4 linked regions of the Homo sapiens genome follow. The protein of the gene in region 3 purifies or fractionates together with the protein of the main gene of each other region. This does not show direct contact. Each region holds a gene or a part of one and is shown on either strand. Other genes may lie near its edges.

Region 1 (3,500 bases), on a different chromosome or scaffold from region 3:
AAAGGAAGAACACTCATCCTATGACCTTGACCTCCAAGCTTTGCCTCCCTCAAGCAGAACAGAATGGAGCCTCCCTTAGGCAGAGGCGGAAGTTTGCCTCTCACCTAGTTCTCCATTCTTTTGTTCAGAGCCTGAATACCCTCAGGCTCTGTACTTGGGGTATTTCTGTTCTCTTGTTTTATGCTCACGGTTGTGAGGTTTGTTGTGAGTACCACGATCCCTTCCTTCAGAGGAGTAAACTGAGGTTCCAAAAGGTTTAGCAGTTGCCCGAGGAATATTAAATTGGCAAAAGCAGGTAGAATATAAAGCAAGGAGTATTTGGCAACGGTTCTTTTTTATGATTAAAAACAGCCGAAGAAAGACTTCTACTTGTGCCTTTGAAGGAGTAACTGCATTTGACCTTCCCACCAGTAACAACCATCAAATCTCTATTAAATTAAACACACACACACACAAACAAAAACAGCTATTGTGAAGGTATCAGCGACTAAGACAACTAAGGTTTGAGGGGCCAGGATCCTGGAGAGATGGAAACTTCCCTGAGGTGAGCCCCACATTCTCAGACACTTTTCCTTGGATGTTTTGAGCACTGCTTTAATTCCTGGGAAAACAATTCCTTCCACTGTGCACAGACTCTGGGGCCAGACAGCTTGGGTTCAATCCCAGCTCTGCCACTTAATGTCTGTGTATCTGTGTAGGCAAGTTACCCTTTGGTGCGTCAGTTTCCTCATCTGTAAAACACAACTATAGTTGATCCTCATTCGTTAAGAGTCTGTACTTGTTAATTTGCTCACTTGCTAAAATTTGTTACCCCAAAATCAGTACCCCTAGCCTTTTGGGGTCGTTTCAAAGATGTGTGCAGAGCGGCAAAAAAATGTGAGCTCCTCCAGGCTCATGTTCCCAGCCAAGGTCCAACAAAGTGCTGCCCTGCCTTCTTATTTCAGCTGTCATAGTGTAAACTGTGTCCTTTTCACAGTCTGATTAGTGCCATGTTTTTCAGATTTTTATGCTTTTTTCTTGGTTATTTCTCTGTTAAAATTGTCTCCAAGTGTAGTGCAAAGTTTAGCACGAGGAGGCTGTGATGTTCCTTACAGAGAAAATGCATGTGTTAGAGAAGCTTTGTCAGGCATGAGTTAAGGTGCTGTTGTCCTGAGATCAATTAATTTGTTGTTGTTGTTGTTTGAGACAGGGTCTCCCTCTGTTGCCCAGGCTGCTGGAGTGCAATGGTGTAATCATAGCTCACTGCAGCCTCTACCTCTCTGGCTCAAGCAATCCTCCCACCTCGGCCTCCTGAGTAGCTGGGACTACAGGTACACCCCACCACACCCAGATAATGTTTTTGATATTTTTTTAGGTGGAATTTTGCTCATCACCCAGGCTGGAGTGCAATGGTGCGATCCTGGCTCACTGCAACCTCCACCTCCCGGATTCAAGCAATTCTTCTGCCTCAGCCTCCTGAGTAGCACAGATTACAGGCACATGTCATCACGCCTTGCTAATTTTTGTGTTTTTAGTAGAGGCGGGGTTTCACCATGTTGGCCAGGCTAGTCTTGAACTCCTGACCTCAGGTGATCCACCCGCCTCCGCCTCCCAAACTGCAGAGATTATAGGCACGAACCACAATGCCCGGCCTCATGTTTTTTATTTTTCAAGTTGAAATGAGGTCTCTCTATGTTGCCCAGGTTGGTCTCAAACTCTTGAGCTCAAGTAATCCTCCCACCTTGGCCTCCCAAAGTGCGGGGATTACAGGTGTGAGCTACCATGCCCAGCCAAGATCAGTGTTAATGAATCAACTATATATATTACATAAGGTGTCTTTAAACAGAAATAAGGTTATATATTGATCGATTGGTAACAATGTTGTGACCAGCAGCTTACAGGGTACCTAGCCTTGTATTTCTCCTATAAATAATTTGCTCGTTGAGTGTTTGTGGCAACTTTGTAGCACATAACTACCAAGAATAAGGACTGTAATAAGAGTACGTCCCTCACAGGATTGTAATGAAGACTGAGTCCATTTACATAAAGGCTGAGAGCAGTGTCAAGCAGATGGAGAACACTGTAGAATGTGCGATAGCTCTAACAGTGGTTATCATGGCTGCCCTCTCACTTCTTCAGAGACATGTGTTTCTAAGGTCTGCACTCTGCCCCACCCTCCCCATCCACTGTCCCCCAGCCCGTTTCCTCCTCCACTTACTTCCCAGCCCTGTGCCTTCTGCCTTCTCTTTTCTGAGTTTGCTAAGGGCACTGCTGGCTCAAGAGCAGTAACTAACAGTCTCTCGCCTCTTCTCTCCATGGCAACCAGTGACCTTTGGAGAATGTAAACCTTATCACCAATCTCTTAAAGCCCTTCGGTGCCTTCCCAGGATGACGTCCAGCTGAGGTCCTTGGCAAGACCCAGGGCGCCCCCTCCTCGCTCCATCACCTCCCCTGTCACCTCCCCTGCATCTCCCTACTCCAGCTGCACCACTCTTGTGCCCCAGTGGCTCTTGTCTGATTATTTCCTTCATCTCCCCAGCTGGTCAGCAGAGCTGGTGGTAATCAACTCAGACCCTGTCACCTGGATGTCCAGCAGTTAGGGACTAAAAAAAATCAACAGGTCACATTCTGTCCTGCAGATCATGATAATAAGATCTGTCAGACAGCAGTCAGCAGTCAGAGCCAAATCTTCTGGACTTCAGCAGGATTCTGCCTCTTGCTATTTCCTGTTGCCTCTCTTAGTGACCTTTTAAGAGCATTGTGGATGCCTCCCAGCCTCCTGCTAACCACCCTGTAACCTGAACAGCCTGCAGCAGCCCTGCCCAGTAGAACTTCCTGATGTGATGGAAATGCTGTGTCTGCACCACTAGCCACATGTGGCCACAGGATTCTCGAAACTGGTGGTGCAGTTGAGGAGCTGACTTTATATTTTATCTCATTAAATTTAAATGTAAATAGCTACGTGTGGCTTGTTGGCTAGCCTATTGGAAAACACGGGCTTAGAGAGACACAGGGAGAATCACTGTAATGCACTAAAAGAAGGTAAAAAAAAAAAAATCCTAAGAAATATTCCTAAAATACTTTAATATAGGGCTGGGTGCGGTGGCTCACATCCAGCATTTTGGGAAGCTGAGGAGGGCAGATCACTTGAGGCCAGGAGTTCAAGACCAGCCTGGCCAACATGGTGAAACCCCGTCTCTACTAAAAATACAAAAAATCGGGTGCGGTGGCGGGTGCCTGTAATCCCAGCTACGCGGGAGGCTGAGGCACGAGAATCACTCGAACCCGGGAGGCGGGGGTTGCAGTGAGCCGAGATCGTGCCACTGCACTCCAGCCTGGGCGACAGAGCGAGACTTCATCTCAAAAACAAAAAACAAAAACCAAAAAAAAAAACTTCAGCATGATTATTTAACCAAAATGCAGGTTAGTTGTTCACCGGATGCAGAGTCCAATTAACAAGAGCAAGGCCTGGTACCAAAAAAAGTGAATTTACTCCGAAACTAGCTTGGGTGAGGGGTACA
Region 2 (3,500 bases), on a different chromosome or scaffold from region 3:
GTCTTGGTCAACCTGTACCCTGGCCTTGTCAATACTGAGTGACCTAATACCGTTTTGATTAATTCCTTTTTGGCTTAAATTAACCAAGACCAGTTTCTTTGTTACAACCAAGAACCCTGACCAGCTGCAAAACCATAGAGAAACAGAGAAGGAACCTTAGGATAGGCATTTAGATGTTGCAGAAGAAGAGCAAAAGCAAAACCATAGCTAGATTTGCTCAGAGAACAATCAGGCACCATAGGGCATCGATTACAGCATTTTTGAGGTCTATAAAGCATCCTTCAACAATAACTAAGCACAACTCTTGAGTGTCATTCTTTAAAAAAAATTTTTTTCTTCATTGCCCAAGCTGGCCTCAAATTCCTGGGCTCAAGTGATCCTCCAGCCTCCCAAGTACAGGCACATGCCACAACACCTGGCCCGAATTATCATTCTTGCCACATAATAAAGGGGAGCATGTTTCCACTGGTGGAATGTCGTACTAAAACATCAGAGGCTCATAAAATAATTACATAGTTAATAAAGTTTTAAGAAAATTATTAACTATAGGCAACATTTTTTCATGACCTTCTAAGAATCAAGGTGGTTCAGAGCATCTGACCCACTGCTTAATCAAGCTCTCCTATATAATTAAAGGTTACTAGGTGGCTTTGACTAAAATTATGAAAAGGGACGGAAATGTCTTGTGGAGACACAGTATGAATGATAGAGCAAGACTGCTTCACGAAAATGTAAATGATCAAGTTATTTTTTCCCAAGGTTTAGGAATCCCTGAAGGGTCTGAACTTCTAAATGCTAACATGACAAGACCCAATTAACATACAGGAGCACAAAGTCATTCACTAACATATATGTGGAGAAAAGGAAAACCTCTCATGACACATCTCTTTAGGCTGCTGTGCCCAATCTTGTTTGGATGGGATGGGTGGCTAAACCTTCACATCTTAAGAGACTTAAGAGAGGACAGAAGGACAAAAGAGATTATTCCCAAAATAGTAAAATCAGCAGATTAGAAAAAGGATCAAGAAAAGAGAGACCATGCCTTTCTTTCTCCAAAACGAAAATCATTTCAATATCTGAAAAAGGCTGGACCGAAAGCTATAGAAACTGAAAGCAAACAAACCATGAAAACAAAGTAAGTGAAACAACATTTGGTTCATCTAGGGGTCCTGCCCTCAGCATGGAGCTTGGTGTAAGGCTCCAAAATTACTTAAATGAAACCATCCCTACAATTAGGAATTTCAGTCAGACAACAGCCTCACTTCACATAATTCTCCTCCTCTTCAAATTCCAAGTTATTGTCAAAGTCAGGTTCTACTGATACGGGACACACCTAGAAATAAAAGACATAGGAGTCAGGCGCAGTGGCTTATGCCTGTAATCCCAGCACTTTGGGAGGCCAAGGCAGGCGGATCACTTGAGATCAGGAGTTGGAGATCAGCCTGGCCAACACAGTGAAACCTTCTCTTCTAAAAATAAACACACAAAATTAGGTGGGCGTGGTGGGGCATGCCTGTAGTCCCAGCTACTTGAGAGGCTGAGGCAGGAGAACTGCTTGAAACCAGGAGGTGGATGCTTCAGTAAGCCCAGATCACACCGCTGCACTCCAGCCTAGGCAACAGAACAAGACTCCATACCCCCCAAAAAAAGACATAGAGCCAGGCGCCTGGCTCTCAGCACTTTGGAAGGCCAAGGCGTGAGGACTGTTTGAGGTCAGGAGCAGGAGTTCGAGACCAGCCTGGCCAACATGGTGAATCCCCGTCTCCACTAAAAATACAAAAATTAAACAGGCGTGGTGGCACCCCCGCTGTAGACCCAGCCACTGGCAAGGCTGAGGCACGAGAATAGCTGGAACCAGGGAGGCGGAGGCTGCGGTGAGGTGAGATCACACCACTGCACTCCAGCCTGGGCGACAGAGTGAGATTATGTCTTAAGAAAAAAAAGAGTCTGGGCGTGATGTCTCATGCCTGTAATCCCAACTCTTTGGGAGGCCGAGACAGGCGGATCACGAGGTCAAGAGCTGGAGACCAGCCTGTCCAACATGGTGAAACCCCATCTCTACTAAGGATACAAAAAATTAGCCGGGTGTGGTGGCAAGCACCTGTAATCCAGCTACTCAGTGGAGGCTGAGGCAGGAGAATCGCTTGAACCTGGGAGGCGGAGGTTGCAGTGAGCCGAGATCATGCCAATGCACTCCAGCCTGGGCGACAGGGTGAGACTCTGTCCCGGAAGGGGGCGGGAGGGAAGGGGAGGACAGGACAGGACAGGACATCAATTAGCTCATTGCAGTTCTAGGGCAACTAGTTAATGGTAAAATAATGAAGACAACCTCAAAAAATTGAGATCTAATTTTATGTAGCTCTGAAGATCTAACAAGGGGTTTAAGGGTTTACCAGTAAGATACCCTGAAGTGACAATGGCCAAAAAAAAAAAAAAAAGTTCCTTTAAGGCAAAAGGACTTTATGCGGATCATTTATCTAGTCAATAACACACTGAAGTTTAACATATCCCGAATGCCCTGAAAGACAGAAAAGAGAAAATGGCCAATTTTCTTTATGCAACTTTAATGGCACTTATTTACTCAAATTTCTGGAGCAATGAACTGTAACTTTTAAAAAACTATGAGGAGGTTAATGGAACATTTTCCCCTAGCCTTTCATTTCTTAACATCCTTCCTCTCTTTGTTCCTGTAACTTTTCTTTTTAACTGTTCCAAAGCAATCAAAAACATGACTACTGTATTTTTCCATTAGATTTGCCCTGGAATCACAGAATGCCAGCTAGCACCAAAAACAGCAATCCCAAGATATTTTCGTTGTTTAATTTAAGACAACTGGGTACTAGAGCAAGTATTAAAAGATCTGATTTCTACATCTGGCCACAGCAGCCAGTCAAAATCACTTCTCAAATTTTCTTGCTGTTGCTTGATTAATAAGACGCTATTTGGTAAGATGTTCTTAAGCACAAAAGACGAGAAGACAAGTTATGCTTTGTCATTCTGAATAGGACTCAAATAACATAAGGAAAACACATGCCACTTTAAGGCACACATTCAAAAAGACACCCTGCACATTCCACCCGCTTAACCAAAACAGCTATGTTAGAATTAGTTTGTGCCAGGACAAGTTGGTACAGAATCAGCACAGATGAGCCAAAGGCTGTGATTTAGGGGCCATGTGACAATCATGCTCTTTTTCCATTAACAATGAAAGAAATGCACTTGAGACACACTCCAACTGTGCTCCATTATGGAAGCTACCCAAAAATCATCTCACTAGAACAAACGAAATCCAAGATGTTCTAAGCTAGCTATGACAACCTCAGCAGTGCCTACTTTCAAGCAAATAGAATACTTAAACACAAAGCAAATAAGTTAATCTGTACCCAGAATATTTTAATAAAATATAAACATGACAAGCTATCAAAACAAAGACCTAAGGAACCACTGTGCAACCAAGATGTAGTTGTTGAATAGCATATTTGCCTTCCTATCACATTAAC
Region 3 (3,500 bases):
CTCTTTCCTGCTCTTTCTGCCTCACTTAAAGCACCCAGTGTTATTCTTCGCCCTAAGGGAAAATATTTCACTGGCTCAGAACCACAAAACTACTACTGCATGAAGAGTTTCTTCCTTAGTTGTAAGAATTCTTATTTCGAATGATCACAGCTTTGTGAAAGTCATCAAAAATCTGAGTGAATCTTCAAATTTGGTGGGAGGGGGCTAATCACCAGTTATTTCAATCCTGGCCCTGCCCTGGTTTTTATCATTTGCTTTTTTTTTTTTCTTTTTTCTTTGCTTTTCTTTTTTGCAGATTCTGGCTATCAGCCTCTTGACCATACCACTGAGCAAGAATATTTCAAAGAAAAATTTGCAGAAGTTGCTGTGAAAATGGCAGCTAGGTGCTACACAATGCTGTGCATTAGGATGATCCTAATGAGTCAGACGCTGTCTGAAATACGGCATGAAAAACTAACGCAGAAAGGGCAACACAACCAAATACAAAGCAGCAGCCCCACAGCCACAGAAACAGTGAGGTGATGATGCTCGCACACACACTGCCCTTTCCACTCTCCTGAAGCTTGGCAGTTTCTTGGTGCTTCTTTGCACAGGAGACTCCCATTTGGCTTTCCTTCTCCACCCCAGCCTTTGCTCTTCATTCTGTCATTAGATCTCAAGTGCCCACAGGTTCTTTTTACCATTGCAAGGATTATACTCTTTTCTGAGATTCTTCCACTCAAAACTCCAATTTCCCTGTTGCACAGCAGGCAGTAACGAAAGCTCTTCAGTGCTTGAGGTTCTGCTTTACTCTGTCCCCTCCCAGAAACACCAAATGCAGCCATAATCACAGCCTCTGAGCACTTGGAGGCTCATATCAGCTTTAGCATCCAATGTGTGATGTGGAAACCACCTAATGTAATGCCTTTCATTTCTGTCATCTTCATCAGCATCTCAAGTGCTGGTTTCTCTGTGTACCTATCCTATAAACACATCTGTGCCTTTTCTTGGTCCTCTGTAACCTGAACTCAAGTATCCTAGGAACAATAAAAGCTGAATCCTTTCTACTGGCCTCTGTGGGGCAAACTCATCTACCTCCAATGACTTGGAAGGACACATCCTCCACCTACTTGCCTTAACTGAAATGTGCAAGAGGAAGCTGCTAAATTCTAGCATGTCCCCATATTCCACAGGGCCCAGAGGAGGGTGCTGGTGTATTCCGGGAGCCTGCTGCTGCTTTCAGATCACTGATTCACCCTTATGCATCTTTGAGGTCATGCCATCTGACAATACTGTGTTGCATGCCTCCATGATACTGTTACTTGTTAATTTCTGGAGGTCAAGTCTTCATATTCAAGTCTTAATGTCTAAAGAGCACTCATTGCAATACACAGACCTCCAGTTTTAGGTTTCTTTTTTCAGAGACAGGGTTTCACTGTCACCCAGGCTGAAGTGCAATGGCCCTATTATAGCTCTCTGTAGCCTCAAACTCCTGGGCTCAAACGATCCTTCCGCCTCACCCTCCCAAGTAGCTGGGAATACAGCAGCATGCCACCATGACCTGCTAATTTTCATTTTGTAGAGAGAGGGTGTCACTATGCTGCCCAGGCTGGTCTCAAACTCCTGACTTCCAGTGATCCTCTTGCCTTGGCCTCTCAAAGTGCTGGGATTACAGGTGTGAGCCACTATATCTGGCCTAGCTACTCCTTCCCAAGCTCCTTTGTGGGCTCATCTCATTCTGCTGCCCCTTACATGCTGTATTCTCTAGGGCACATATGTGAACCATTTTTCTTATTCATAAGATCTCTGCCAGTAATTGCATCTGTCAAAGGTTTCACCTGCCATATAGATGCCATTGGCTACCAATATTTCTCTAGTCCAGACCTTCCTTCTGAGGTCCAAATCCATATACCCAATTGCCTTTTGCACTTGTCAACTAAAATATAGACTCTTCCAGTGAATACATTCAAAACCGAAGTGCCTGGCTGGGTGCGGTGGCTCATGCCTGTAATCTCAGCACTCTGGGAGGCCAAGGCGGGCGGATCACGAGGTCAGGAGTTTGAGACCAGCCTGGTCAACATGGTGAAACCCTGTCTCTACTAAAAATACAAAAATTAGCTGGGTGCGGTGGCACATGTCTGTAATCCCAGCTACCTGGGAGGCTGAGACAGGAGAACTGCTTGAACCCGGAGGCGGAAGTTGCAGTGAGCCAAGATCGCGCCACTGCACTCCAGCCTGGGCTACAGGGCAAGACAATGTCTCAAGAACAAACAAACAAACAAACAAAAACCTGAAGTGCTCATGATGACCAATACTTCCTTCCTCAGGTAGGAGAATCTTCATGCAGTCAACTGCCCAAGTCAAATACTTAGAGACTCATCCTAAATTCTTTCCTTTCCCAGAACTCCCTATATGCAACCAATCACAAATCTTCCAATCGTAACTTTCCACATCCCTTCTGAATCACCTCTACTTCTCCAACTCCTCAGCCCCAATCTTGGTTCAGGCTCTTCTCTCTCGAAGTTATTTAACATCCTTGGGGTTATGGTGTGTGTATGTGTGTAGTGTATAATCAAATGGATCACGATGCCTATGGAGAGGAAGCTCAAGGATCATTTGAAGGTCACACGGACTCTGGGTATATAACAGAGTGAAGAAGAGCAGAAAGTTTCTTTCTGATAATGTGAGCTCCTGGTACAATGTAAGCCCCACATAGCAGGAACTTTAATCTTTCTGGCTCACCACTGTATGTGTCTGGTACAGAGAAGATATTCAATACATGTTTAATGAATAAATGAGCTTATCAAAATATCATAGGCAATATCAAAAAGACCTTCAAGAAAAGTACCAATAACCAATAATGAAAACAAAACAATGAAAAAAGGGTTTGCAGCAAAAAGATTCAAACAACTTTTAGAAGGCAATGATTACAAAATTCAAAATTACAATTTATTCAAGAAATACATACTAAATGCCTACTATATAAGCATTATGCCAGGAGCTGGGAATACAGTGGAGAATAACTAGGGTACTGGTCTCAGGTTCGGTGGGTGACAAGATCTGTAGATAAAGAGATGAAATAAGAAACAGAAGCCATTCCAAGTTAACACAAAGGGCCCAAGGGGACTGGTTTGAGGTAATGGAGTGGTCCTTCTCTTGAATGGGGCGGTGTTTTCACATGCCCTTAGGTTTGTCAAATCATTGAACTGTACCCTTAAAATGGATGCACTTGATTGTATGTAAATTATTCCTCAGTAAGATGACTATTAAAGTAAATTAAAAAAAAGTATAGAAGTTATATTACATTTGCCCACTTTTAAGAAAAGCAAAACAAGAAAAAAAAAAAAAGAAAGATTAGAATGCTAGAGAATATGTACATGGCTGACAGAAGCAATAACACTGAATTAAAACAAGACAAACTAGAAATTCAAATCTAAAGCATGGAAAAATTAAATACGTTGGTGAGAAATATGTAAGAAAAAAATTAACCTTCAGAATAGGGCAAAGGTGTATAACCTATG
Region 4 (3,500 bases), on a different chromosome or scaffold from region 3:
GCTGACACTGTCCCGTGCATAATTCTTCCTTTGTTCTGAAAGAGAAATTGAAAAAGCCATGATTTGTCCCCTAATAGACTGAAGTTCATATGTTGGTATCATGTGGCTATCTCTAAAACTAGTCTATCTCACATATAAATACAGTAGCTGACAAGTTGCCATTGTGTGGTGTATCTGAAAACACTCATTATTCGCAGTAAATCTAAAAACCACAAGAAAGTCTAAATAATAGGCAAGAACAATTTGATCCACTATCCATTTTTAGAATTCCAAAGGTTAACAAGAGTATAAATATTATAAGAAAAAAAGTTATTTCATCTAAAGGTTTTATTTATCAGTCAGGGACCTACTGTTTGACAAGTCAATTACAACTGGCTTATAAATTTCATCTGTTACTGCACTGATATCAAAATGTAATTGCAAATATTGTCATAGATACTGTATTATATGAGTTAGACTACATTATTAAAATAATAGGCATTACAAGGAACATCTCCTTTTGCAATATCCAAATTGGGATAGTGTTAGAGGAGATTTAAAACATGATTCAATCACATGGCTTGCCATTAAATATTAACAGTTTTCACACATCTACAAAACACACAAATGTGATACTTAGAATTATAAATATAAGCTGATAGGAAAAACAAGAAAGTCAGGTAGAAAGTTATTGCACCAAACTACTTAAAAAGCAAAAAGAAACCTTTAATTTTCTTTTCTGAAATGCTGCAAAACCAAAAAAATAACATTAAAATATAAAATGTATGTCGGCAATATTTGGTATTTGTTACTCTCTTTTTAAAATTTGTATTGTTTTTTAAAATATGGAACACTTCATGAATTTGAGTGCCATCTCTGCACAGGGGTCATGCTAATCTCTGTATCATTCCAATTTTAGTATATGTGCTGCCAAAGTGAGCACTATTTGTTACTTTTCTAATCAAGCAACTTGCTTATTTGTAAATTCAGAGTTGCCCTATTTCTTCTAAACAGAATGCTATGATGAAAAATAACTCTGAGAGGGAATTATAAGATTTATTGTTCCAGCTTCGGCTCTGTCACTAAGTAGGAAACTAAATTTGGGCAAGAAACTTAATACCCTGGGCCTCAGCACCCTTACTGTAAAATAAAAGGATTAAACAAGGTCAAACCTAAAGGCCTTTAAGCCATTAACATTCTGACATATAGATATACCTTAGCTTTCCCAACAACCTATTTTTTTGTAAATGTAAACCTATTTCTTTTAGTTAGTATAGATATTCTATAATAGATAAGTTGTTTGGAAAGTTCTGCTGAACATAAAAGCTGAGCAAGTACAAAAATATAAAGTGCATATATACATATGCAGACTCAGAACATTAACACAGAATTTTAAGAAAACTTAATAAATTTTCATTTTACAACACATATGAATTTCATTTATATTTACTTTTAAAATTTAGATTAAAATCTCCATGTCCTTGTATCAATATTACTCTGATATTCCAATACACTCCATTTTTGCTTTTGCAGCATTAAAATTACTTAATAAAAACAGATGCACTACAAAATTCACTCTGTGCTACCTTTCTTTTTTTGTTTGGATGATGACCTGAGGAAGTATGATCCATCTGGTCCTACCAAAATAATGTCATCAAAAAGAAAGATCTGGTTTCACCTAAAATTTTCTCTCCCAATATAACAAAACATAAACCTTCACTTACATGACTGTATTCTACATATTTTTAAAAAGTGAGCGACTGTGATTTTTCTGATTAGTTGTTGAGGATTAATCAGTGTGAGATATTAACACATCGATAATTGTCCCTGTGACAGCCGTTATGACTCTTGTAATACAATATATAATTCAGGAATATATTTCACAAAACCACATCTAGAAATAATCACTATTTCAGAGTCACTGGTTCACCATATTCTAACACAACTGTCCACGATAGATTCAGAGCAGGAGGGCTCGGCTTGCTTTGATCTGACCTTAGGACAGAAAAGAAATGGCAGTGGTTGCCATGACACCCAGTCATGATATGGCAGCTCCTGGATGTTCAAATGCTTTGTCTTTCAGGTAATTTATTGGCAAATACAACAGTTGAAGATCTGAAATACTGTGTGTTTCTATTTAGATATTCTCATTATGAAGTATTAAGAATTTATCCCTGACCTCTTGATTTCCTAACCCATAGTTTCCCAATCCCACAGAAACATAATTTACAGAAATGAGAAGAAAAACTATCTGATAGCATTTTAAACAGTATGACATTAACCGATCACTCTGAGTGCCTAGAAGATATGGTGTCATTTCTAATATTCCAAATTAAGAATCCACTTTAGGAATTCCTAAGCTGCTTTCTCTATGTTGTACAATAAATAAGTTGTATAAGAAACTACCTTTTAAAGATCCTAAAAATGTATAAATGCCATAAATGGACTTATAAATAAACTAGTAGTTCCAGTGATTTTTAAGTCAATCCATAAAGGTTAATATTAACATTTTAATAGGCAATTTTGAAAGACATTTCCTAAAAGGCAATTATAATACATTTCTTTTTTATGAGAATCACATGTATTCACAAGAACTGGTATAAATAGTAATTAGGCTCCTAAGCTAGAAATCTCACCAAAGCCTTAAAACAGTATAAAAAGCCTAACTAAAATCTCTCAACACTACTCAAGATGAATCCTCTAATGAAATTCACCACTTTTGCTAACAGTGGTTCTCATCCTTGGCTGCATGTTGGAATGAACTTTATAAAACAGTGTGCAACTCATCTACTATATACTATCTCTTCAAGCAGAACATTTTCCTTTCCAAATTAAGAATGTAAATATCGTCAAATGGTATATTAAATAATAAATTCATGAATAAACATGGCAGTAGGGTTTTAGGTTTCTAGTAGTACAAGCTGCTCAACTCCTAACATAAGACTAAGTCTATTTCCCCTCCTATTCTGGCCCCTGCCTCTCTTTCTCGCTCAGAATCAATTAGAGGTAGGATGAAACTTACTTGGCTATAGAACCACTGGTTGTGTTTCACTATTTTGTCTATTAGCTTTTATGTCATGGTCCAGAATGTACAACTCCAAACAGACAGAATTACATGAATTCAGTAACCAACGATGAAAAATATTTACATACAATTTTATCATACACTATTGCAAAAATTGATATTCAACTCCCAGATCAGAAATACTAAATTTAGGTTTCATTTAATTTGTTAATTAGTTGAACTACAAGTATAAAAAGCATCCAGGTGTTGGTATTTACACTTAATTCCCTTTCACATGCATTGCTGTTTATGCATAATATAACATTTGAAACGGCTAATATTCAAAGATACAGCTAATATTTAGAATTTTTTTTCTCTTTCTCTAAAAACAAAAATGTTCCTTAGAGAGTAAGGATTTGGCCATTAACAAGAAAAAAGTAACATAAAAGCAGCTGCTGAGTATTCCTCTCTCTAAATAAAACAATGGGCTAGAACTCATATTACTTTATACTTACAA

Evidence for each region. Proteins that work in one complex are often made in the same cells at the same time.
Region 1: the proteins of LYRM4 (region 3) and FXN purify together in Homo sapiens (affinity purification with mass spectrometry; one large-scale study listed by BioGRID and IntAct). This does not show direct contact.
Region 2: the proteins of LYRM4 (region 3) and STARD7 purify together in Homo sapiens (co-immunoprecipitation; one large-scale study listed by IntAct). This does not show direct contact.
Region 4: the proteins of LYRM4 (region 3) and EPS8 purify together in Homo sapiens (affinity purification with mass spectrometry; one large-scale study listed by BioGRID and IntAct). This does not show direct contact.

The regions. Positions count from the first base shown.
Region 1 is NC_000009.12:69,042,252-69,045,751, forward strand, and holds part of FXN (frataxin, mitochondrial isoform 1 preproprotein), read left to right. Parts: intron 1-3,500.
Region 2 is NC_000002.12:96,202,328-96,205,827, forward strand, and holds part of STARD7 (stAR-related lipid transfer protein 7, mitochondrial isoform 1 precursor), read right to left. Parts: intron 1-3,500. UniProt on the Homo sapiens protein: May play a protective role in mucosal tissues by preventing exaggerated allergic responses.
Region 3 is NC_000006.12:5,219,451-5,222,950, forward strand, and holds part of LYRM4 (LYR motif-containing protein 4), read right to left. Parts: intron 1-3,500.
Region 4 is NC_000012.12:15,670,889-15,674,388, forward strand, and holds part of EPS8 (epidermal growth factor receptor kinase substrate 8), read right to left. Parts: intron 36-3,500; coding exon 1-35. UniProt on the Homo sapiens protein: Signaling adapter that controls various cellular protrusions by regulating actin cytoskeleton dynamics and architecture. Depending on its association with other signal transducers, can regulate different processes.